5 separate regions of the Homo sapiens genome follow, and regions 1, 2, 4 and 5 are each linked to region 3. The links come from fine-mapping of genetic effects on gene expression. A gene starts in region 3. Each other region holds a variant in brackets. All regions are shown on one strand. Distances are from middle to middle. Region 1 overlaps SUSD6 (sushi domain containing 6). Region 2 overlaps SUSD6 (sushi domain containing 6). Region 3 holds the start of SUSD6 (sushi domain containing 6). Region 4 overlaps ERH (ERH mRNA splicing and mitosis factor). Region 5 overlaps SUSD6 (sushi domain containing 6).

Region 1 (5,103 bases), 27 kb after region 3:
CTGAGATGAATTTAGTAAGTTGGTTTAACCCCAGTGCCTCTTATTCTCTTTCTGCACAGTTTTTAGTCAGCTAGTGGGTGTGGACATGCATCTTTGTTTTACTATGAGAAGAGGAGGAATTGTGCCTTAGCAGTTGAATAACTGTGCCTTCTATTTAGATTCTGTAGAGGGTTACACTCAAAGCTAATGAGTGCTTTCTTCCACTCTGCACACACTCTTGCTGCCTGGAGTGGGCGGCAGGCTATAGAACCACAATAGAGCAAGTACTGTTGCTGTTGAAGGCATAGACGGAGGTGACAGTAAGGGCAGCTAGGCCCTGAAATTCCAGTGGCTCAGACCCCTGGCTGATGGCTTACCTCCTGAGGTGAGACCAAGAGGAAGGCCTTCAGCTTCCCTGAAATGAGTGCTTCTCACAGTTAAGGTAGTGTGACCAGCCAGGGGTAGGGACTGGCTTCCTGAGGAAGAGGGTGGGAGAGCCTTAATTAAGCCTGCCTGGTTTGGCAGTACCTCAGACTCGCCTCCTCTTTCTGTGTTGGCTGATAATTTCCTTCAGCTCTTAGAACAACTCTTCATTTCCTGGGGGAACCCATTGTTGCCAATATACACTCACAGAGCCTATCTCCGGTACTGCCATGTGTGCTTTCTGCCTCCTTTCCAGAAGAGGCAGGTAGCCAGTCTTTTTTTCTCATGAGCTGTTCCTACCTTGTTGGAGTTCCTGGAGGCTAGTGCTGCTGGACCTCCAGTCTGGCAGAGGCCTGGACGAGAGCTATTCCTTGGGTTCTCAGAACAGACCTAGCCTAGTGGAGAACAGTTCTGGGCCTGGCTCTGTGTCCAGAAGGGCTCAGTCAGTGGTCAGATTCTGATTGGGAGATATATGAGGAAACTTTGTTTGGTGAGAGTTAGGAGAATGGGGTTCTGGTTCAGCCATTCTCTCAAGAAGTCATGATCATTTGATAGGCCTCAGTTTTCCTCTCCTAAAATGGGTAGATTGGATTTTATAAGATGATCCCAAAGTTCCTTAAGGCAGTAATGTGTTAGGATTCCGTGACAAACCCGGGAGTCTGCCCCTGGTCTAGGTGACCAAAGTTAGCAAAGGCTGGGACAGCACAGATTGCAGTTCCCAGGTCTCTTTTGCCTCCCAGCTTTTTGATGTGTTTCTTCTCCTTGGAATGCCCCACCACTCCCTGTACCCACCTCTTTCTGCTCTGTCTGGCTAATACCTTCTAAAGCCAGGTATCAGCTTAGACTGCCGCTTGCCCCATACTTGTGTGGGTGCCTCTCCTTGGTGCTGGCATTACACCCTGTGCTCAGTACTTACCGCACCATATTACCGTCTGTTTCCTTGTTCTTCCTGACCTTACCTGAGCTTCTTGAGGGCAGAGACTGTCTGCTATCACCACTGTATCCCTCATTGCTGGTGCAGCGCCTGGGATGTGGTATATACACAGCAAATGTTGAAGGAATGAATGTCCCCCCCTAACCAGGGTCAGCATACCCCAGTGCGCTCTGGGAACTGTTCTCTGACCCTCTCCACCCTTACCCTGCCTAAGGCTCTCTCTTTCTGAGCTGTGTGTGGGTGCTGGAGAGCCTTGGATAATGCTGAGTTGTTTTTGAAGTGTGTCTCATTGTGGCAAAGCATTGGGTGATGTTGCCATCCCCACCCCCAGGACACTCTTGCAAGAATTGCTTCCACCAGGGATGGGCATTGACTTTGACCTGGTCCTCCTCATCTCCAGCCCTGGAGGAGGGGCAGGCAAGCACGTGCAGATTGCTGTCCTCTGACCAGCTGCCCAGGGCTGGGCCATCTGCTGCTTGTGACAGCGGGTGGGGTGAGAGGGGTGAGTGACCTGTGCAGGGGAGGGAGTGTGGGGCAGCAGCATAGTCACTTCAGTGCACTGACTGCATGACAGAGTCCAGCCCCCCTTCTCCCCACGTTCTATCTTCTTTTCCAGTGCTCAGTTATGCTATGCTTCATCCAGGTCTTGGTTTTGTTCCAGCTGCTGCCCCCCACCACTCTGCTAGGAGAACTCTTGCTGTGTTTTTGTTAACTCTGTGTGTGTGCTTTGCCCTTTTGCCTATGCCTCCAAGAATCTTTATGTTACATAAGACAGCAGCAGCAAAAAACAGAAACAAAAACAAAAAATGTTAGAAATGAAACTTTGGACCCTTGTTATTCTCTGTTCAGATGCAAATGATGAATCTCTTTCCATCAGAGTTTATACCTTTCTGTTTACCACCCCGTTTTCTGTCCCTCCTCCTGGAGAGCCTTTGAATGGCAGGGATGGGCTGAATCACTCACTTGGAAGGACTGTAATTTAG[C/T]TTGTGCTTCAAACCTTGCCTCTTTCTGGCCTTGTAAGGACCTAAGAAAGACGCAAAAAGGAAGTAATCTACCCCCATCACTCTTGGTGTGAGTTTGAAGGTTCTGAACTGGGGTGGGGTGGGGAGTGTGTGTGTGTGTGTGTGTGTGTGTGTGTGTGTGTAATTGTGTGTGTGTGGGATTGAAGGATGAGGGTTGTGGACAGTCTTAAAAGCCACCTTTACCAAATGAAGAGGTGACAAAGCAGGGACTGGAAGGGCAGCATACCCTAACCAGGACTTCCCCAAACTTTAACATGCATATGAATCACCTGGGGAACCTTACTAAAATGCAGATTCTGATTCAGTAGATCTGGGATGAAGGCTGAAATTCTTCATTTCTAACAAGCTCCCAGGTGCTGCCAGTGCTGCTGTTAATGGACCATACTTTGAATAGTAAGGCTGTGTCCTTCCTATTCCACCTTTTAATAGTTGATTTAAAAGACTGACCTAGGGAAGGCAAGACAGGGGCTAGTCAGGACTTGCGTAATTTAAACCCAAGGTCCTGGGCTGGCTTCTCAGCCAGTGTCTACAGAGCCTTTTAGGCGGGCCCCTCTTATCTAAGCTGCTGGCTTCTCTGAGCTCCTTTGGTCCAGTTTGGTTTCCAAGGTATAAGAACCACAGCCCTTCAGAGGGTGTGTGTGCTTACTCACAACAAGATTGGGTCCTTGCCCGTTTCTCTTTGGATCATTAGAAGTAGATAAGGCCAGGCCGGGTGCAGTGGCTCACGCCTGTAATCCCAGCACTTTGGGAGGCTGAGGCGGGTGGATCACAAGGTCAGGAGATTGAGGTCTCGATCCTGGCTAACACGGTGAAACCCCGTCTCTACTAAAAATACAAAAAATTAGCCAGGCGTTGTGGCGGGCACCTGTAGTCCCAGCTACTCGGGAGGCTGAGGCAGGAGAATGGCGTGAACCCGGGAGGCGGAGCTTGCAGTGAGCCGGGATCCAGCCTGGGCAACACAGCGAGACTCCGTCTCAAAAAAAAAAAAAAAAAAAAAAAAAAGAAATAAGGCCAAACCTAGCGTTTAAAACAGAAGTTTAGAGCTGAAAGAACTTTTACTCTTTTCCAGTTTATTTTACTGAGGGGGAAATGGGCCCAGAAAAGTTTTGTTACATGTCCAGAATCACAGCCAGGGGCAGAGCTGGGGTGAAAAACCAGATATCTTAATTCCCAAGCCCCTCTCTGAGGGAGTGTAAACCTGAGTTAGAGATGAGAGAATCACGGAGTTGGTCTGGGGACATGCTGGTTGGACAAAAAGGCTTTCCAGTGGTTTGGGGGAGTTTTGCACCACATGTACAACTAAGGTGGATCAACTGACATCTTGGCAGCCCATCCTTTGTTCACTTAGGCCAGGGCTTTCATCTGCAGCATCACTGATGTTGGATCAAGTGATTCTTTGTTGTATGGGGTTGTCCTGTGTGTTGTGGGATGTTTAGTTGACATGCCTTGCTCTATCCATTAGATACCAGTAGCACCTTACCCCCAAGGTGTGACAACCAAATATGCCTCTAGACATTGCCAAATGGGGGAGGTGGCACAAAATTGGTCCCAGTTAGAAAACCACTGGTTCAGGCAACTAGTATTTTGGGGAAGAGAGTCCCTCTGGGGCACCTACACTGTTTTTTTTTTTTTTTTTTTTTTTGCGGGGGGAAGTGTGCATTAGTCTCAGATTATAAAGGTAGCATGGGTACCAGCCTTCCTGGGAGTTTATTTACAGTTTAGTTTATAGTTTAGTGGGGGAGGGAGGAACCACGAAACTATTAACTATAGACTCCCGGGAAAGCTCCCACCTTAATGCCTCCTCCAGGATGTGTAGAGACCCAGGCTGGACTCTGAAGAATGGGGTCAAAGCCCAGGGTGCTTAATGAGGAAGAGATTTTGCTGTCCTGGGCTGGATTGCATAGCTAAGAACTGAGTAACTATCATTCACTTACTCCTTAAGAGAATTCTTCCATTCTGAAAAAAATTTATATATATATACACACACACATATAATATATAATATATATATTTGGAGACAAGATCTTACTCTGTTGCCCAGGTTGGAGTGCAGTAGCACAATCATAGCTTACTGTAACCTCGAACTCCTTGGCTCAAGTGATTTCTCCTGTCTCAGTCTCCCGAGTAGCCAGGACTACAGGTGCACACCACCACACCTGGCTGATTTTCTTTTTATTTTTTGTAGAGACAGGGTCTCACTCTGTTGCCCAGGTGGTTTCAAACTCCTCACCTTGAGTGATCCTTCTGCCTCAGCCTCCCAAAGCACTGGGATTACAGGCATGAGCCACTGCACCTGGTGTGAAAAATAAATTTTATCTGAATTTGTAGAGGGCAGTGAGACACATTAACCAACAAATATCTACACTTGAAGGGAGAGAGACCAGCTCAAGCCTGACATTGGTAGACTAACTCCTTATTTTTTATTTCTAACTTGATTTTATTCTGATATGGGATGAATCCTCTGATAGCTTTTCCTGTCTCTTTTCCAGTGTGTTAAGTGATTATTGCTGTAAGACTGGAATTACAGTCTGTAACGTTCTGAGGACATAGATATAAAACATGGGTAAATGCCCTTTTTAGATGTGAGCCTAAGAAAGGGTTTTTATCCTTTTTCAGTTTCAGAGGATACTGTACTTGCAAATGCTTTTAAGGCCACAGAGTTCTCACCCTTGTACTCAACACTAGGCCTTCCTAAATATTATTCCAGTGCACAAAAAGCATTAGTGATGGAATGGAGCCTCCATT
Region 2 (5,103 bases), 79 kb after region 3:
TCCACACTGGGGTACTATTATAATAGAGAAAAATCTCTCTAATTATAGCAGTATTGTGGGCTTCTCCCATGCCTGGCTGGCCACGACATGGAGTTGATAAGCATACAGTGTCTTTCGTACTTGCCGTTACAACTGTTAATTAAGAGAATTCAGCTGTGGCACCAGCTGGGGATGTCTGGCTTTGTGGAAGATTGCAATTAGATGCTTTTTTTTCTTTTTGTTTTTTTTCTTTTTTTTCCCTTTTCAACTTTGGTGGAATGCCTTTGAGTAGGGGCTTTTAGTCTCAGCAGTATAAATACTTTATAATGTGCCTAATTATGTAATTATACAGTTATACTCTTCTGTGTACACACACATTGTTTTATGAATTTGTATGCCCTTTTCTAATACATGAAACATCTAGCCTGCTTTTTGGTTGTTGTGGTAGAGCCAGACTCCTCTCTGCATTGGGCAGAAAGAAGAAGACTAGATGTATTTACTGATTAGCTTCTGATTATGATCTGCCCTACTTCTGTTCCTCTTCCACCTCCCTCTTGACCCTCTATCTCCCAAATAATTAGCATCTTAGTAGCTACCTAGCAAAGTCAAGGTAATTTGAATAAAATTGGATTGTATAATACTCTTATCTTTCCATTAGTTTGCAAATGTAGTCCTTCAAAGTGTGTAGTGTTATTTTTCCCAGTCCTCTGTTCTAGGCAGTTATAGAGCATGAGCCTGGACGTGAGAGCTCATGCATGCATGCAGGCACAATGGGACCCATTGATTTCTGGCATTCAGCTTGTGCATAGAGGACCTGTGACCCCAGCTGTTAGAACCAGGACCTGGGAGCAGCTGCTTTCTGGATCCAGTCCTCCAGGGATAGGCCATCTGCTGCCATGTGAGAGAACCCTGGAAAAGAAACTGACCACAAGATATCTTTGTATTCCTTTTCTGTGTGCTCCAGCCCCTTTAGTTCTTTCCTGTCCCCTCTCACCTAGGCAAACTTGAGAAGCATGATGAATCTGCACTGGAAAACTCGCAATGGATTTTCCGTTTTCTTCCCCTTTCCCCACTCCACCCTGTCAGCACATCCAGCCCATTGGAAAATAGTTTCCAGGGGATGTAGGCAGACTTATATGGGCAGCTTCTTCAGTGGGATTGGTACTATTTAGCAGGCTTTCATTTTATTATGAATAACATGGCTTTGCATTATAGGCCTAGAAGTGTCCTTAAAATCTCATCTCATGGAAGAGGAACCCAAGATTCCACATTCTTTAGCCTTGCATTCAGGGCCTACCCTCTTCTGGCACCAGCCTGATTTTCTAAATGTTCAGTTATCTCCTGCTAAACCTGGAAACATTTGCTAACTTCTCCGTACACATACCACCTCTTCTTGATTCTCTGCCTTTGTTTGTGCCTTTATGTCCCCCACCATGTTCTTCCCACTCTCCTTTATCCCCGTCATAATCCTTTATCCCGTACTCATGATCCTACTTCCCGTGAAGTTGGAGCTCTGATACCATTTCTACAATCTTCTTTGGTCTCTTCCCCATTGGATTAATCCTTCTTCAGAACTTTCTGTAGCCCATATTGATTTCTAACATATATCTATTATAGTCGTTTATTAGAAAGCTCCTAGAGTGTAGGACCAATATCTTTTTATCTTTCCACCTGCCTACCTTCACCTGCCACAGTGCTTTTGGTACTTAGTAAAAACTTGTTGAAAAAATGAATGGCAGAATTAAGCTGAGGGAAGAGAAAAAAAGAATGAATGGGTAAATATAATCCTTACATGGATTCTGGAAGAGAAGCAGTAGATATTACTATTATTTTAATCTTGTTGGGGCTCCTTATCTGTATTCCCAAAGAGACTGAAGTCTCCTCAAGGGCACACCATGTGTATTATTTGCCCTTGAATTTCTAGCAGCAGCCTAACACATAGTGCTTAATAGAAATTTGTTAAATTAATGAAGGAATTTGTTAGGAAAGTGAAACCTGGAGAGAATAAGAATCAACACTTGTAAATACTTTTAAAAATTTGTTTAATTTTTTGAGATGGAGTCTCGCTCTCACCAGGCTGGAGTGCAGTGGCATGATGTCCACTTACTGAAGCCTCCACCTCCTGGCTTCAAGCAATTCTCATGACAAGCCCTCCCGAGTAGCTGGAATTACAGGTGTGTGCCACGTTGCCTGGCTAATTTTTGTATTTTTGGTGGATACAAGGTTTTACCATGTTGGCCAGGCTGATCTCGATCTCCTGGCCTCAAGTGATCCGCCTGTCTTGGTCTCCCAAAGTGCTGGGATTACAGGCCTAAGACACCATGCCCGTGTTTTTTTACTCTCTTTTGAGTGAAAGTTATTAGTTATTAAACCTGCTGTCTGGAGGACAAGAGATTAAAGGTATTTTCTGTACATCAATGTGGCATTTAGACATAGTTATCTACCAACATGCAGTGTGTGTGAGGCTGTCCGAGGCATTGTCTTCTGACTGGGCATCTCAGACTGGTCAGTCAAAAGTGGCTTGCGAGAGACTAGGGTCCAAAGAGCCAAAGAGGCCATGACAGGTGACAGGGGCATGGTCCTCACCCTGATAAATAAGCATGGTTGAGACTCTACTCCTGACTGTTAGCTAGTTTAGGCCCAAGTTTCACTATTTTGAGGTTGTTTTGTTTTACTAGAGCCAGACCAATATGTACACAGGCTAACATCAAAGGCCAGTCCTAGACCTTCAGGGCCAGGCATCCATCCTTCTTTGGACTTTGCAGCAGGCTTGAATGCATTCCTGTTGTTTTTAAAGATCCTTAAAGAGGCTTAAATGTGGCTTCCTCAGAGAAAAGCATGTGGGAAGGATTCAAAGAGAAAGCTTGTAAGAGGAGCAGAGGGATCTTCCAGGAGCACGGTATGCTGAGCAAGATGCAAAAGTTCAAAGTAGTGAAGAAGAGAACTCCTAGGGGGATTTGACTCCTCACTGTCCAGAATCAGTTGGTGAAAGTTCCCCTCTGGAGAAGTGCAAAGGAAACCAAGAAGGCATGGCAAACTGCTTTTCCCGTGGTGGTCATTTGGGAGAAGGTGGTTTAAAATTTTGTGATTTAAGATTGTTCAAAACAGAGAATCTCATCCCGCACAAGATGAAGGAGGAAGAATATCCAGGTCAATGGACTTGGTAACTTCCGCTCCACCTGCCTGTGCACAGTGA[G/A]TACAGAGTTCCTTAGGCTTGTTGGTTTAGAGGCAATAGAGATGAGACTTGTGGCTTCGTCCAGCCTTCTCCCCCCGCACCAAAAAACCACACACCTTTTATTGTCTCTTTTGTATTTGTAGTCCCTGTCTCATGGTGGGACCCCACCCCCCAGAATGTACAGGGCTCACTTCATGGTATGCCTTAGACCCAGTCACATCTCTTTCTTCAGAAAAGACCATTCAGGGCTGGGTGCAGTGGCTCACATCTGTAATCCTACCTAGCACTTTGGGAGGTTGAAGCAGGTGCATCACCTGAGGTCAGGAGTTCAAGACCAGCCCAGGCAACATGGCGAAACCCTGTCCTTACTAAAAATACAAAAAATTAGCCGGACTTGGTGGTGTGCACCTGTAATCCCAGCTACACAAGAGGCTGAGGCATGAGAATTGCTTCAACCTGGGAGAAGGCAGAGGTTGCAGTGAGCCAAGACAAGATCGTGCCACTAGACACCAGCCTGGGCAACAGAGCAAAACTCTATCTCAAAACAACAGCGACAAAAAACCCATTCAGACCTCCACCCCTCAACTGCTGGTGTTTCTCAAAGACCTATGGTGTTTTGCTGATTTGGGGCCATTGCCTCAGTGGATTTCTGTTACCATCCATAACTAGAGTTTACTGGTGTTTCCTTTCTTTCTTTGCGGTTGTCTAGGCCTTTGTGAGTAGCAGTGGCCTGTTGAGTGCCTAAGAGAATCAGCACACTACCTGACCCCCTGTTTGGGAGTATGTGGCAGAGGCTGTTTATTTCAGGCTTTGGCAGTGATAACCCAGTGGCCCTGTGTGTTCTGGGCAGTGGCAGAAAGGTAGCCCTCTAATTCCAGGTCACATCCCCATTCTGCATTTAGTGACAACCTTCCTTTCACATATCCGTCTTAGAAGTCTTGTGTTCTCAGCCAGGCTTGGTGGCTCACGCCTGTAATCCCAGTACTTTGGGAGGCTGAGGCGGGTGGATTACCTGAGGTCAGGTGTTCAAGACCAGCCTAGCCAACATGGTGAAACCTGTCTCTACCGAAAATACAAAAATTAGCCCGGTGTGGTGGCACACACCTGTAGTCCCAGCTACTCAGGAGGCTGAGGCAGGAGAATTGCTTGAACCCGGGAGGCGGAGGTTGCAGTGAGCTGAGATCATGCCACTGCACTCCAGCTTGGGTGACAGAGTGAGACTCCGTCTCAAAAAAAAAAAAAAAAAAGAAGTCATGTGTTCTCAGCTGAAAATGCCTACATATCTTCTCCCACTTGCAACTTTGCTGTCTGTGATCCTTAAATAGCTCCATTGTGTGTAGTACACAGAAATTAGTGAAGGAAACTGTCCTGCCTTTTCCCTCCACTTCTCTGGAAAAATGTGGCCCCACCTGAGATATGAACTGAGTCCTCTGGGCACAACTAAACTCACCAGGCCATATTCTTCTCCAAACAGGAATTATAGCAGCTTTTGTCCATATGTATCCCACCCCTATGTTATACTTTGTAGGTCTTGGGGTAAATTTTTTTCTGGTGGCATCAGAAAAAATCAAGAAGCTTCCTTGTAGAAGGGCCAGCCAGAATTTGAATGCAGACTCTAGTACTTAGAATCCAGGTGACCTCAGTCCATTACTAAATTTTTCAGAGCCTCAGTTTTTTCTGAACAAATCAAGTTTTATACCACCTTCTTCCTAGGGTGGAAGAATTTAATAGGATAACACTTTTAAAGTACCAGTGCAGTGCCTGGTGATAAATGTTAATTCTCTTCCTTACTTGTATCCTTTTGGCAACAGAGATCATTAAATTTGTTTTAAATTTGATTGTGTGTTTCTTGAGGCCCTGCTGTGTATGCCTGGGACTGTACTTGGCATTAGGAGTTACCATTAGCTGGTAGGATTGGAAATGAAACCACAATTTTGGCCTTTGTACCC
Region 3 (5,103 bases):
TGCAGTGAGCTCAGATCATGCCACTGCACTCCAGCCTGGGCGACAGAGCAAGACTCCGTCAAAATAAATAAATAAATAATTAAATATTTAAAATGTTTAAAAATTTTAATTTAATACTTTTCTGTGGCACTTTGGGGCTCAACCAAAGTGCCACAGAAAAGTAGAAGCAGCAGCCTTGGGAAGATTCTGAAGGGTAAGTAGAGAAGGCCTTCAAGATTGAGGAAACAGCATGGGCACCTGGTTTGTGACAGGAATGGCTTGTTAGAGACCAGCAGGTGGTATGGGGAGGCTGGAGTGGGGTGTGTGGAGGGATGGAGAGCATTTGGGCCGGACTGTGGACAGCACAGGATACTACAGTCCTTGCTGATGACTTTGAGTTCATTCTGTGGACCCTGAAGGTCTGGGAGAGGATTTTTTTTTTTTGAGACAGTCTCACTCTGTCACCCAGGCTGGAATGCAATGGCACGATCTCGGCTCACTGCAACCTCTGCTTCCTGAGTTCAAGCAATTCTCCTGCCTCAGGCTCCTGAATAGCTAGGATTACAGGCATGTGCCACCACGCCTGGCTAATTTTTGTATTTTTAGTAGAGAAGGGGTTTCGCCATGTTGTCCAGGCTGGTCTCAAACTCCTGACTTCGTGATCTGCCTGCCTTAGCCTCCCAAAGTGCTGGGATTACAGGCGTGAGCTACCGCGCCCGACTGAGGATTTTTGGGTAGTGATGGACAGATCTGCATAGGGTCTCACAAGGGATTTTATAAGGTGGCAGTTCTTGTATGAAGTTACTGAGCCTCTTAATGGCCAAACTGACTTCAGTGCACAGCCAGGGGCTCAGTTACTTTGGCAGTTGATCTGACCTGAACCATCCATGCCTGCTTTCTTCCCTTTCCTTTCTTTCTTTTTCTCCTTCCTCCATTCATCTTCTCCAATTCTTCCTCCATCCCTTTCCCTTGCTTCCTTCCCCCTTGTCCCCTCCCTGAGCCTTGGGTCTGCCTGGCATGTTCCTGCTGCCCACACTGATTTGGTTGTGCTCTGAGGCAGACCCAGGTAGTTCTGAATTGTGCTTTTCAATCTTCTAGTGGTCTGGGCAGTGTGGCCCCAAATGAGCAGGAAGGGAGGGGTGCCCATCTTCTCTAATGAGTCTGGACCCAAGAAGGCAAGGAAGAAAGAAGGCAGAACAAGGATAGACTTATGAAAAAGGCATTATAGCAACGAGCCACAGGTTGCTGTGGGGCCCAGAAGGGAAGGGTTCTTTTGGGGATGGGTCTGTGTGCATGGGGAGGAGCATCCTGTTTATTTGGTTCAAGCTACTTCACAAGGACATGCCCTGTTAATTCACAGTGCTTTTCCCGAAAGCCTACTAGAACTAGGCCTGGTGAGAGGCCCTGAGAAGGTGTATCCTTTTGTCCAAGAGCATCTGGGAGAAGAGGCCTGCCTGACCCAAGCTGCAGCAAAGACACAAGTCTGTAGGTCCAGATGTGGACTCTACCACTGATTTACAAGTAGGAGTTCCTTAACACTTATGGAGGACCTCTGAGACCGACACGGTGCAAGGCCCTGGGGTACAAAGATAAAAAGCCAGAGTCCTCCCCATCAAGGCGCCACGGGCCCTGTAAACACATAAACCGAGGACACACTGCATGAGAGATCACCAATAAACGATGTAGCCATACAGTGCACAAACTGCTCACTCAGTATGTGCTAGAAAATAGCCCCAGAAGGCAAGGCTCAAGAGGGGAAATACAGTTAGGAATGTGGCAGGCTTCTAGCCCGGGCTCTGCCAGTCCTGGCTCTGAACTGCGGTTTTCTCAACCTTGAGATCCCTTGTGTGCTTTTAGTATGCTGAAGGATCACTCACTTCAGAATGCTAGTGAAAATACAGATTCCCAAGTCCGACCCCACTGAATCACAATGGCTGGAGGTCATTCGGGGCCCCGAATCTGCATTTTCACCCCCACCCACCCCCCGGGCAGCTTTAATGTTGGCAGGCTAGGAACCACAGTTCGGATTACTGCTTAACAGGGAGATAATAACCTGCTTCAGACGAGCTAGGTCAGACGAGCAATTCAAGAGCTAACAAGGCAACATGCGCCAAAAGCCTTGTAAACCTCAGGGCAGTACAATTCTTTGCAAATAATAGTAATTCAATCATGCAAATAATAATAATAGTAAACGAACTGGAGAGCGCACTGGAAACGCCGCATAGTCCAGCTGAGTCGGTGCCACCGCCCCATCCACTCCAGCGCAGAGGGACTGTCTCTTTAAGGACCCCCCACCTCCCCAACCGCGTCGCTTCTCCCTTGGGTACCTGGCCCGGCCGGCGGCGCGTGCGTGCAGGGCCTCCCGGCGGGGCGGTCGCGGCGGCGCGACGCCGGCGCCGTTGCGTGCGCGCCTGGCCCTGCCCCTTTCCCGCCCCTTCCCCGCCCCCTCCCCTCCGCGGGGCCTCCCCCGCCCGCGCGGTACAGCTGGGTCAGTGACGCGGGCGCTGCAGCCGTCGCTACCGCCGCGTTCTATTCTCCGAAGCCGGCGACCGCCCCACCTCCTCCCTCCCTCCCGCCCGCTTCCTCTGCCCACAGCGCCGGCCAGAGCGAGCTAGACAAGGGCACGCGGGGCCTCGCCTAGACCCGAGAAGACTGCGGGCGCGCGCAAGCGGCGGCGTGGAAGCTGTGAGCGCCCCCATCCCGGAGGTCTCCGCCGGCTCCCGGGTGAGTTGTCACCGCGGCCCGGGGGCGGCGGGGCCGGCATTGTGCCATCGACGCGCTCGGCCGGCTGTCAGGGGCGCGGGACCAGCGCGCACCGCCCAGGAGTGACGCTGGCCGGAGCCCGGGCCGGCTTCGGCGGCTCCCCGCGCTTCTCTGCGCCGGCCCGCTGTCACCCGGCCGCGAGCCGCGCCGCTGGGAGCCCCGCGCTGGCGTGGCGCGGCCAGCCGGCCAGCAGTGGGGGCTGCGCGGCCGGGGGGACCGGCGGCTGGTTTGCGGCCGGGAACTTGGTGACCCGCGGTCCGGGGCGCGCCGTCCCGCGTCGCTGCCCGGGCAGCACCGGAAGAGCCAGACGCCGTGCCGATGGGTGCAGAGGAGGTAGGCAGAGGCCCTCTGTGCCACTGTCATTACTGCCCTCAGCCCAGCAAAGCTGCGGGGCTTGCGCTGGGGCAGGGCTGGCTTAGAGAAGGTGGATTTCCTGAGGAAATCTCAGAGCCCGCCTGTGCGCACCGCGGCATTCGGGAGCCCCCGCGCCTCGGCTGCTCTTTAATCTCAAAAACTTCTCTTATTAACCAGGCTAAACTCCCCGAAACCAGCTATTTTCTTTCAAAAAGTAGGCACGTACATACAGACTTTCCTTTTTTCGCTTGGTTTTGAGACCCCAGCTATGAGTGTGGATCTGACTCTCCCTCATGGGAGTCGTGGCTGGGGAGCTGCTGAAGTGGAGAAAAGTTACCCTGGACGAATTTAGGAGCAGGAGGGGGAGGTGGTTATGGGGACAGCAAGACCCAGGAGCAAAGAGGCGTCAAAATAAAGTCTTGGGCTGGTTAAAGGGAAGTTGGCGTCTGGGCAAGGAGGCCTAAAGCTGTTGTTCCCACAGAATTTTCTTTCAGTGGCAGGCGACATGCTGGGCTTTGTTGCTCTCGCTAACTGGGCTCCTGTGTGCTCTTCCAGAGGTGCAGTAAGATTACTCAGTTCAATTAGGCCTAGGGATTTACTCCCTTTTTTGATCTACAGAGATGGGAAGTATGTCTTTCCTTCACAGTAGTTAATTCATTTCTTGCTGTTTTCGTTCCTCTGGTGTAAAAACATACATAGGAGTTACGCACACACACCTTTTCTGTTTTGGGAATTCCACACCCAAACTGTCACCATCTAGTGGAGGCTAGTAGAGACATGTGCTTGGCACTGACTTCTGAGTTCTCTGGGTTTTGTGTTTTTAGCTAGAAGCATATTCAACCAGAAATTAAAATTTTCCTGGAGTTGGGGGAGGTATGTCTACATCTCAGGAAAGAAGGTATTTAAGCAGCAATAATATGGAAAGGTTCTTGAGGACTTACTGAGTACCAACCTTTGTGCTAAGGGCTTTACTTTTTTGAACTCATTTAATAACAGACTTTTGATGTAGATATTATTATCCCCATTCTTCTAGTTGAGACCCAAACCAAACAAGTTAAATAACTCGCCCATGTCACATAGGTATCTCATGGTGGAGCCCACAGTCTGAACTACTAGATTATACTGCTAGTTTCTGGTTTGTTTACCTTTTGATAAAATTGAACCTGGAGTCTTTCTAAAACCTTCTGAAAGCACTGCTGCTTCAGGCTGTTTCTCAGATCATGAGCATTCTAAACTCTTTCTCCTGGGTACACACTTACGGTATGTTTGCATAAGATTCATTTGTTCATTCTTTCATTCAGTACTCCCAAGTAGTTATGTGATACCGAATGTATGCCAGGCACTGTGCTAGGTATTGCAGGTACTGCATTGAATAAGTCAGAATCCAGCTCTCATGGACTCACAGCCTTTAAGTCCATTTGTTTTGGTTTATGTTGTTAGCTTTCATTGCTGGCCATTTGCTGCTGAAGGAACTTCTGCCCAGCGAGTTAAACAGAGGACAGTATTGGTATGAGTCCTGATAGATAGGACTTCCTGTCTGCAGAGTAATTTTTTGGATACTGTAGTAGAAATGGCATATGAAACAAATCCTCACTTACACCTAGATAGAGACAGGTGCCAGGGTGCTCAGTGTTTAAACCCTGAGAGCAAACCCACTGTCAAATGGGCAAGTTTGACTTCTTTCGCTGAAGCCTGCCTTCTGAAAGCCCAGAATTTGGTGAGATAGAAGAGAAAGAAGGGTAGAATGAGGTGTTACAGATACAGGCTGGCAGATAAAGAGACCTCAGCACTTTGTCTGTTTTCCTGGTCAGTCTCTGAGGTGTGGTGATTGAACTTGTGTTCTTTTTTATTTTTTATTTTTTTTGAGATGGAGTCTCGCTCTGTCACCCGGGCTGGAGTGCAGTGGCACGATCTCGGCTCACTGCAACCTTCACCTCCCAGGTTCAAACGATTCTCTGCCTCAGCCTCCTGAGCAGCTGGGACTACAGGTGCGTGTCATCACGCCTG
Region 4 (5,103 bases), 220 kb before region 3:
GAAATTAAATTTCAGCTATACGCATATTTAAGTTTTTGAAATGTCATGAAAAAAAGATAATCTTAGTTTTAATCCAAAACCAATGGCTTTAAGACAAAGACTGTAAAGGAAAAAAAAAATTAGGTATAAGGAACAAAGAAGAGGCACATGGAACTTCTGAATTAGGATCCTTTCTGGATACTAACTATATCAATTAGCAAAGTTATTTTTTTCTGTGCCTTTGGCTTTATGTTGCCAATCTCTTATTTCTGTAAGAGAAATATTAATTACTATACACTATGCAAATGCAAAGATCAGTATCAGGCACATAATTAGCTCCCAATACCATAAATCACCTCAAACAGACAGAAAAGCAATAGAAAATACAAGATAAAAGACATGTTGGCTAATACTTACACCAGGCAGCTGAGGTCTGCCAGATCATCGATGAAATCAAACAACTGACTGATGTCATATGTGATAGAGGGACTGTTGGGATTCATTCTTTTCAGATGTTCTTCATACATTTTACAAACACCTAAGAAAGGATAGGAAAAAAAGCAAAATCTTACAATCGCATACACTTCTAGATATGAGCAGTGCTTATGAGCTGTGCTATATGTTGATATCATATTTACTTTAATAAAGTTGGGCTGGGGAAAAGATGATAGATTGATGGCTTTTGATTATTGCCACTAGCAAATACTTTTTTATTTTATAAATTCACCAGGTCAGGTGTAGTGGCTTACGCCTGTAATCCCAGCTCTTTGGGAGGCTGAGGCAGGAGCATCACTTGAGCCCCACAGTTTAAGACCAGCCTGCCTGGGCAACACAGGGAGACCTCATCTCTACAAAAATTAAAAAATTAGCCAGGCGTGATGGCGTGTGCTTGTGGTCCCAGCTACCTGGGAAGCTGAGGTGGGAGAATCACTTGGCTGCAGTGAGCCGTGATTGCATCACTGCACTCCAGTCTGGGCAGCTGAGAAATTCACCACAATGTTGATGTAACTATTTTGTGTCTTAATAATAAAATGATTACTTCAAACCACTGGAGCTAAGGGGCTTTAAAGACTTGCCATCTGATGGCTCAAACAAATAACACTGTGGGTCTTAACAGGTTTTTCAGTAATTCTTCCTAAAGCCACAGAGCAAAAAAAAAAAAAAAATTGGCAACAAGGAAAGAGATTATCCTAATGTATATTTAAGATCCTAGACTAGGCCGGGCACAGTGGCTCACGCCTGTAATCCCAGCACTTTGGGAGGCCAAGGCGGGCGGATCACGAGGTCAGGAGATAGAGACCATCCTGGCCAACACAGTGAAACCCTGTCTCTACTAAAAAAATACAAAAAATTAGCCAGGCATGGTGGCAGGCACCTGTAGCCCCAGCTACTCGGGAGGCTGAAGCAGGAGAATGGCATGAACCTGGGAGGTGGAGATTGCAGTGAGCCGAGATCGGCCACTGCACTCCAGCCCGGGTGACAGAGCAAGACTCTGTCTCAAACAAACAAACAAACAAAAAATCCTAGACTATGGATTCAGACAGACTTTAGTTCCAACTCTGCCCCTGTCAAACCGAGGACAAACGACGCCATTCCCTGAACCACACCTGTCAAACAGAGTTAAGAGTGCCTCTTCATAGAATTGTGAGGTTTATTTGAAATAATACACATAAAGCATTAGCACATGAACAAGGATATAAGTACTTAAATATAATAAAAAAGATAATGAGCAAAATCATTAATAGCAAGCCCACATTACTAATTATAATTAGCTATAGAGTATATTATCTATTTAGTTTTTATTCAATAATACTCTCCTTTTTTTTTTCTTTGAGATGGAGTTTTGCTCTTGTTGCCCAGGCTGGAATGCAATGATGAGATCTTGGCTCACTGCAACCTCCGCCTCCTGGGTTCAAGCGATTCTCCTGCCTCAGCCCCCCAAGTAGCTGGGATTACAGGCACCCGCCACCACACCCAGCTAACTTTTTGTATTTTTAGTAGAGACGGGGTTTTACCATGTTGGCCAGGCTGATCTTGAACTCCTGACCTCAGGTGATCAGCGTGCCTCAGCCTCCCAAAGGGCTGGGATTACAGGCTTGAGCCATCGTGCCCGGCCTGATACTCTCCTTTCTTATTCCCACAAAAGGAGAATACACCTTTTCAGTCTATTCCCGCTGTCAACTATTTTAAGACTACTATGATGAATGGCTAAGTGACATAAATGCTAGTTATCTAGAAAAAACATGTCCTATACTGTATACATAAGCCTTTTATTAGCTCCAAATTAACTTTATAAATTTCCTAATAAAAA[C/T]ACTATTCAACCACAGAACTATTAAACAACTATCTTAGGGCTTTTTATTGCTACTGGCATACTACATTGTGATCACAGAATATCACCCATGAGTTAATGAATGGAAAGAAAATAAAAACTAGGAAAATAAATTCGTATATGTTAAAAAGGCATTGACCCACAGTTATACTTTTTTTTTTTGAGATGGATTTTTTGCTCTTGTTGCCCAGGCTGGAGTGCATTGGCACAATCTCGGCTCACTGCAACCTCTGCCTCCCGGATTCAAGCGATTCTCTTGCCTCAGGCTCAGCCTCCCGAGTAGCTGAGATTACAGGTGTGTGCCACCACACCCGGCTAATTTTTGTATTTTTAGTAGAGACGGGGTTTTGCGATTTTGGCCAGGCTGGTCTTGAACTCTTGACCTCAGGTGATCCACCCGCGTCGGCCTCCCAAAGTGCTGGGATTACAGGCATAAGCCACCATGCCCGGCCTCCATTATACTTAATGGTTAAAGACGGGATGCTTTTCTGTTAAGATTAGGAAGAATACCAGAATATTTATTGCGCTACTTGTATTCAACATTGTACTAGAAGTTCTAGCCAGGGCAATTAGGCAAGAAAAAGAGATAACAGGCCTTCAGATTGGAAAGGAAGAAGTACAGCCATCATTATTTGCAGATGACATTATCTTACAGATATAAAATCCTAAGGAAACAATAAAAATCTATTAGAACTAAGAAATGAGTACAGCAAGGTTGCAGGATATAGGATTGGTATATGAAAATAAATTTTATTTCTATGCCTTAACAACAAGTCTGAAAATAAAATTAAGAAAACTCCATTTATAACAGCGTAAAAAAGAATAAAATTCTTAGAAATAAACGAAACAAAAGTAGTACAAAACGTGTACACCCTACACTATAAAATGTCATGGAAGGACTCTTTTCTTTCCCTTGAGACACAGTCTCATTCTGTTGCCCAGGCTGGAGTGCAGTGGCCCAATTGCAGCTCACTGCAGCCTTGACCTCTTAAGTTCAAGTGATCCTCCCAAGGATCTGTGACTACAGGTACGCGCCACCATGCCCAGCTAATTTTTGTACTTTTTGGAGAGCAGGGGTTTCATCATGTTGCCCAGGCTAGTCTCAAACTCCTGGGCTCAAGCAATCCGCTCACCTTGGCCTCCCAAAGTCCTGGGATAACAGGTGTGAGCCACCACGCCATGCAGAAAGTAAAGCCACCACACCATGCTTAATAAATGGAAAGACATCCCATGTTCATGAGTTGGAAGACCTGATGCCAATACTCCCTCAGATGATCTACGGATTCAACGCAATTCCCATAAAAATCCAAGCTGTTTTTGCAGAAACCAACAAGCTAATCCTAAGTTTGACACAGAAATGCAGGAGACCCAAGACAGCCAAAATAATCTTGAAAAAGAAAAACACTGGAGGATTCAAACTTCCTGATTTCAAAACTTACTATGAAACTACTCCAATCAAGACAATATGGTATTGGCATCAGGATAGGTATCTACATCAATGGAACAGAAATGAGAGTCCAGAAACAAACCCTCACATTTATGGTCAACTGCTTTTTGACAAGCATGCCAAAACAATTCAACAAAGAACAGTATTTTCAACAAATGATGCTAGGACAACAGGATAGTCACATGTGAAAGAATGAAGTTGGACACATCTCTACAACAGACCAGAGACTTAAAAGTAGGAGCCCAAACTATAAGACCCATAGAAAAAAATAAAGGCATTAATATTTGTGACCTTGGATAAACCAATGGTTTCTTAGATATGACACCAAAAACACAAAAATATGCAAGTTAAAGTTTATAAAAATAAAAAACTTTTGTGCTCCAAAAGACACTATTAAGAAAGTGAGAAGACACCACAAACGGGGAGAAAACCTTTATAAAACATCTATCTGATAAAGGACTAATGTCTAAAAATATACAAAGAACTCCTAAAACTTAACCATAATCACTCAATGAAAAATAGGCAGAAGATCTGGATACCTCAATAAAGATGCAGATGGCAAATAAGCACATGAAAAGATGACATTGTATGTCATTAGGGAATTGCAAATTAAAACAATAAGATACCTTAGAATGGCTAAAATCTAAATCAGTGACAACACCAAATGCTGGTAAGGATGTGGAACAGAAACTCATTCACGCTGGTGGGAATGCAAAATGGTCCTGCCACGTCTGAAGACAGTTTGGCAGTTTCTGACAAAGCTAAACATACTTGTACCACATAATCTAGCAATCACTCTCCTACGTATTTACGCAAATGAGCTGAAAACTTAGGTCCACACAAAAGCCTACACAGAAATGTTTATAGCAGCTTTATTCATAATTGCCAAAAAATAGAAGCAACCAAGATGCTCTTCAATAAGTGAATGGATAACCAAACCATGGTACATTCATTCAAGGGAATATTATTCAGCAATAAAAAGAAATCAGCTATGCAGCCACACACACAAAAAGTAAGAACCATAAAAGCATACTGCTAGGTTGGCCAGGCATGGGGGCTCATGCCTGTGATCCCCAGACTTTGGGAGGCTGAGGTGGACGGATCACTTGAGGTCAGGAGTTTGAGACCAGCCTGGCCTACACAGTAAAACCCGTCTCTACTAAAAATACAAAAAAAGGTAGCCAGGCATGGTGGCGCAGGCCTGTAATCCCAGCTACTTGGGTGGCTGAGGCAGGAGAATCGCTTGAACCAGGGAGGCAGAGGTTGCAGTGAGCTGAGATTACGTCACAGCATTCCAGCCTGGGTGACAGAGTAAGACTCTGTCTCGCACGCCAAAAAAAAAAAAAAA
Region 5 (5,098 bases), 110 kb after region 3:
TAATGCCAAGGACAGCGAGTGAGGCTGGGAGCTTCTCTTGGGCCTGCTGGGTCTGTCAGCTCTCGGAATAGGGACAGTCCTTACTGGTGCCCCAAGGTGGGACTTGGAGAATATTTTGCTTGGCATATGTTTGGTCTGAATGGTGTAGTTGCTGGTTCCCTAGAGAGGAAAAGGTGGCAGGCCCAGCTTTGCTGGGAAATGGCTCTTAATTTCCAGTTGAAACCCTAGTAGAATTGTGAATGAAAACCTCAAGGTTGAGCCCCTCTGCCAAGCAGCAGAGCTAGTAGAAGGGGATGCAGGGGCAAAGCACTCAGTTGCCAAGCAAGGAGGAGAGATGTACGTGGGCTGTGTGGCAGTCCCCACACCCTGCCCTGGCTTCTTCAGGTTATCGCACCACTATGGAATCCTTTGCAGAATGGTACTCATATAATGGTTTAAAACAACACATTCATAATTGACTCTGTGCAGGATGTCACTCAATCAGTTTGGGTTTGCTTTATTTTATTTTATATATATATTTTTTGGTATCCTGTACATTGCAGTGGGTGTGAAGATAGTATTTTAATATTTGTACAAAGTTTAATTTAATTTTAATTGTTCTATGTATATAACTGCATTTCTAAATAATTAAAAAAAAGTTCTTATGAAGGCAATTCTGGGAGATGTGATCCTTCCTGAAAGTTTTTGCAGAAACCTTAGATTGAAAGAGCATATGTGGGCAGGAGGTCATGGAAGGATGAGGCACTAGCTCTGTAGGGAGGGTGCCTGGCAAGAGGTGGAGGAGCCAGGATGGAGAGCACTTTGGGAGGCCAAGGCAGTTGGATCACTTGAGACTAGGAGTTTGAGATCAGCCTGGCCAACATAGCAAAAGTCCATCTCTACTAAAAATACAAAAATTAGCTGGGCGCGGTGGTGCATGCTTGTAATCCCATCTACTTGGGAGGCTGAGGCCGGAGAATCGCTTGAACCCAGAAGACGGAGGTTGCAGCCAGCTGAGATTGCACCATTGTACTCCAGCCTGGGCGACAGAGCGAGACTGTCTCAAAAAATAAATAAATAAAGAAGTCTTGGCCAGGCGCGGTGGCTCACGCCTGTAATCCCAACACTTTGGGAGGCCGAGACAGGCGGACCACGAGGTCAGGAGATGGAGACCATCCTGGCTAACACGGTGAAACCCTGTCTCTACTAAAAATACAGAAAAAAAAAAAAAAAAACCCCGGCATGGTGGCAGGTGCCTGTAGTCCCAGCTACTCAGGAGGCTGAGGCGGGAGAATGGCGTGAACCCAGGATGCGGAGCTTGCAGTGAGTCGAGATCGCACCACTGCACTCCAGCCTGGGCAACAGAGCAAGACTCTTGTCTCAAAAAAAAAAAAACAAAACACAGGAGTCTTGACCACCAAATCTTCAGTATGGTGGGGTGCGGGTGCTTGGGCAAGGGAGGGACAACAGCAAAGGGAGGTTCAAACCGGGCAGAAAGCCACCACAGCTTCAGTGTGGCAAGGAGCACATTTGAAATGAGCTCACAAAAGGAAGGCTTTGGATTATATTCCTGGAAAGGGCAGATGTCTTGGAGCAGACGGGAAGAGAGAAGGAACTGTGGTGATGGCTCCCAAAACACCAAGGGTTTCAGGAAGAAGGCAGTGAGGTCCAAGTTAAAATAAGGGAAGCATTCTATTTATCTGGGGAAACTATGGCAACAGTAGGCATTGCCGGCAGTTCAGTGGGCAGGAGCAGTGAGGAGGGCAGGAACACAGGGAGAAATGGTGGGAATGCATTCAGGGAAGCCAAAAGCAAAAGATAGCTGGCAGCATGCCAGGATTCATGTTGATGCAAGCCAGCGTCTACTGAGTGCTTCCGTATGTACCAGGCGCCCTTCTAGGCTCTTGGCCTGCAGTAACTCCAGATCTGGCAGCTGCACCAGGGGGTGGGCATTCTGATTAACCCTGACTTTGCAGGTGAAGAAACAGGCTCAAAATAGTGTAGCGAAGCTTTATTATAAAGTCACACAGCTCTGAAATGATGGAAATTGGGACTCAAACATGATTGTCTCACAGCCCAGTGTCTTAATATCTGCCTCAAAGAACACTGCCCACAGCATGCAGGCTTCTTTATGTTGCAAGAACAGAAAACCCCACTGGCTTAAGCCACAATGCGCAGCT[G/A]ATTCAACACCCAGCACCCCACTTCCAGGCTAATTCTACCAAGACCTGGCTTGAATGACATCATTTTCTTTCTCAGAAACTCTTCATGAGTCTTGCTTTATTGTTTAGAGCAGGAAAGAAAATAAACCACAAACCCTCAGTAGTCATTTGTTTCAAATGCCCAGTTTTACAGACGAGGGCACTGATGTGCATGGCTGTACTCTGATTTGATCAAGACCACATGGCTAGTTGGTGGCAGAGCTGGGCTGAAATTCTAAGCCCCTAGTCCAGGTCCAGTGTGTGTCCCTGTCCCACCATCTTCAGCAAGTCCACTCTCTTCTGCTTGGCTTTGGAGCCCAGCCCCATCCTGTTCTCCAACACAACTTCCCTCTGCATCCTGAACACCTATGACTCACTGCGCTAGAGTCACCGTGGCTCCCTTGGCCCTGAATGCTGCTCCTGGAGAGGTTGGAAGGAAGAGCGACACCTGAGGACAAACTCCTGTATTAGTCCATTCTCATGCTGCTATGAAGAAATAACATGAGACTGGGTAATTTATGAAGAAAAGAAGTTTAATTAACTCATGGTTCTGCGTGGTTGGGGAAGCCTCAGGAAACTCACAATCATGAGGGAAGGCTCCTCTTCACAGGGTAGCAGGAGAGAGAATGAGTGCCAAGCGAAGGGGGAAGACCCTTATAAAACCATCACATCGGCCAGGCACAGTGGCTCATGTCTGTAATCCCAGCACTTTGGGAGGCCGAGGGGGATGGATTACCTGAGGTCAGGAGTTCGAGACAAGCCTGGCCAACATGGTGAAACCCCATCTCTACTAAAAATACAAAAATTAGCCAGGCCTGGTGGCTTATGCCTGTAATCCCAGCTACTTGGGAGGCTGAGGCATAAGGATCGCTTGAACCCGGGAGGCAGAGGTTGCAGTGAGCTGAGATTGCGCTACTGCACTCCAGCCTGGGCAATAGAGCGAGATTCAGTCTCAAACAAACAAAAAACAAAAACAAACCATCACATCTTGTGAGAATTCACGATCATGAGAACAGCATGGGGGAAACTGTCCCCATGATTCAATTACCTCCACCTGGTCCCGCCCTTGATATGTGGGGATTATTACAATTCAAGGTGAGATTTGGATGGGGACACAGAGTCAAACCATATCACCTCCTGAGGCAGCCTAGGTGTCTGGGGGAAGTTCTGAGAAGCTCTTCACTCCTTTCCTAGTTCCTTCAGATCAGGGCTGGGCAGGAGGCAAGGAAAAGAGCCCCAGTATGAATAGGGAATACTTCCCAGAGTTCAAGACCTGGGGCAGCACTTTATTTTCCTTCCTGTCTTGATCTCAACCTGAGGCTGTGGCCCATCTGCAGCCTAGACTATGGAGAGGAGACTAGGGAAGGAAGAGAGCTGCCTTGTTTATCACCTGCTTCCACCTCACTGGGTGACAGGCGGCCTCTTTCCCCTGCATTGGAAGTGGCAGGAGAGGAGGGAGCTCAGAGGCAAGGGTAGTGAGACTCTGGCTGGCCAGAGGCACTGCTGCTGAATCCCCCACTCTGGTAGTGGGAAGGCCCGGCTGAAAGGAGACTCCTTCTTTTCTCCACAGGCCTTGGAATGAGAAGAAGGGATCACAGGGAGATTCTGAGTGGCCCAGTCCATGGTAGAAGCTGGCTGGTCTGCCTTCCCAGCAGCGGCCCAGGGTGGGGGAAATGGCACTGTCCCAACCTTGCCCACTCAAGTGATCCCAGAAGCCAAGCTGCATACAGAGTGGGTCTCACGGTCTGTCTTCAAGATGAGAGGCGACAGCAGCAAATGCAGTTGTGCCCCAATAGGGACTTTGGTCTGGTGGGGAGCACGTGGGGGAGTGTTGGCTCCACAGGACATTTACCACACAGCTTCCCTTTCCCCAACCTTCCGTGATGTTTGCTGAGCACCTAATAGGTTCCCGGGACTGGGTAAGGTGCTTTAAAGATACTATTTTAGGCCAGGAGAAATGGCTCATGGCTGCAATCCCAGCACTTTGGGAGGTCGAGGTGGGAGGGATCACTTGAGGCCAAGAGTTTGAGACCAGCCTGGGCAACAGAGCAAGATCCTATCTCTTCAAAAAATTTTAAAAATTAGCCGGGTGAGGTGGTTTGCACCTGTAGTCCCAGGTACTCAGGAGGCTGAGGTGGGAGGACTGCTTGAGCCCAGGAGGTTGAGGCTGCAGTGAGCTATGATTGCTTCACTGCACTCCAGCCTGGGCAACAGAGTGAGACCCTGTCTCCAAAACAAAGAAACAAAAAAGAGACAGAGAGAGAGAGGTGTTATTTTAATCAATCAACTCAGCCAGTCTTGCAAGGCAGATGTCATTACCCTTTTTACAGGTGAGGACAGTAAGGCTCAGAGAGATTCAAGTACAGTCCAAGACCACATAGGTCATGCATCCTCAGCTGAGTTGCGGTTTGAATTCAGGTGTGCCACTCCTGGCCTCTTCACCTCACGCTGCTCACTTGCTCACCTCTTCTACTCCCCAGCTTTTCTCCCTGGGTTCTTGATCACCTGACCCCTTCACACCTACTATCCTGCCCAAGAATCCCTCTCAGCAATGTCCAAAACCAGGACACCAAGCCATTTAGCAAAATGCAGTCCCAGATGCTCAGCAGTCTCAGCAGTCAGGATGGGTTCTGGGTCCCTGGAAAGATCAGGCAAGGCCAGGAGACCCAGGCAGCCCCTGTCTCCTCCCTGGGCCTTGCTTCTGAAAGGTGAGGAGAATGCTCTGTATTCTCAGGTCTTCCCACTTCTCCTTGGGACTAGAGCTGGGGGCACTTGCCAGGCTTTTCTCTTTCTGTTACTGAAAAGGGAATTTCATCAGCTGTGAACCTGGGGTGAGACATGACACATTCCCAAGTTGAGCCTAGGTTCATCCTCCAAGCTGCCTGGTGATGAAGGAGCATTACCGGGCTTGGGGACCATCC

Evidence for each region. PIP is the estimated chance that this variant, and not a neighbour inherited with it, causes the effect.
Region 1: its variant is the best candidate, but not a certain one, in a credible set for the expression of SUSD6 in whole blood (TOPMed, PIP 0.58).
Region 2: its variant is the best candidate, but not a certain one, in a credible set for the expression of SUSD6 in whole blood (TOPMed, PIP 0.66).
Region 4: its variant is the best candidate, but not a certain one, in a credible set for the expression of SUSD6 in whole blood (TOPMed, PIP 0.59).
Region 5: its variant is the best candidate, but not a certain one, in a credible set for the expression of SUSD6 in whole blood (INTERVAL, PIP 0.70).

The regions. Positions count from the first base shown.
Region 1 is chr14:69,635,980-69,641,082 of GRCh38, forward strand. The region is part of intron 1 of SUSD6 (sushi domain containing 6); the gene reads left to right. Among named protein-coding and RNA genes, the nearest start is that of SUSD6, 27 kb to the left of the region's middle. RefSeq lists enhancers at 1,694-1,743, 1,779-2,291. The variant C/T (reference allele first, on the strand shown) is at 2,320.
Region 2 is chr14:69,687,656-69,692,758 of GRCh38, forward strand. The region is part of intron 2 of SUSD6 (sushi domain containing 6); the gene reads left to right. Among named protein-coding and RNA genes, the nearest start is that of SRSF5, 77 kb to the right of the region's middle. RefSeq lists a silencer at 657-951. The variant G/A (reference allele first, on the strand shown) is at 3,176.
Region 3 is chr14:69,609,126-69,614,228 of GRCh38, forward strand. It overlaps SUSD6 (sushi domain containing 6), which reads left to right and starts at 2,471. Exons shown (of 6, transcript NM_014734.4): 1 at 2,471-2,703. RefSeq lists a silencer at 2,220-2,989.
Region 4 is chr14:69,386,567-69,391,669 of GRCh38, forward strand. ERH (ERH mRNA splicing and mitosis factor) reads right to left here. Exons shown (of 4, transcript NM_004450.3): 3 at 397-517. Among named protein-coding and RNA genes, the nearest start is that of ERH, 9.2 kb to the right of the region's middle. The variant C/T (reference allele first, on the strand shown) is at 2,291.
Region 5 is chr14:69,714,492-69,719,589 of GRCh38, forward strand. It overlaps SUSD6 (sushi domain containing 6), which reads left to right. Exons shown (of 6, transcript NM_014734.4): 6 at 1-653. Among named protein-coding and RNA genes, the nearest start is that of SRSF5, 50 kb to the right of the region's middle. The variant G/A (reference allele first, on the strand shown) is at 2,160.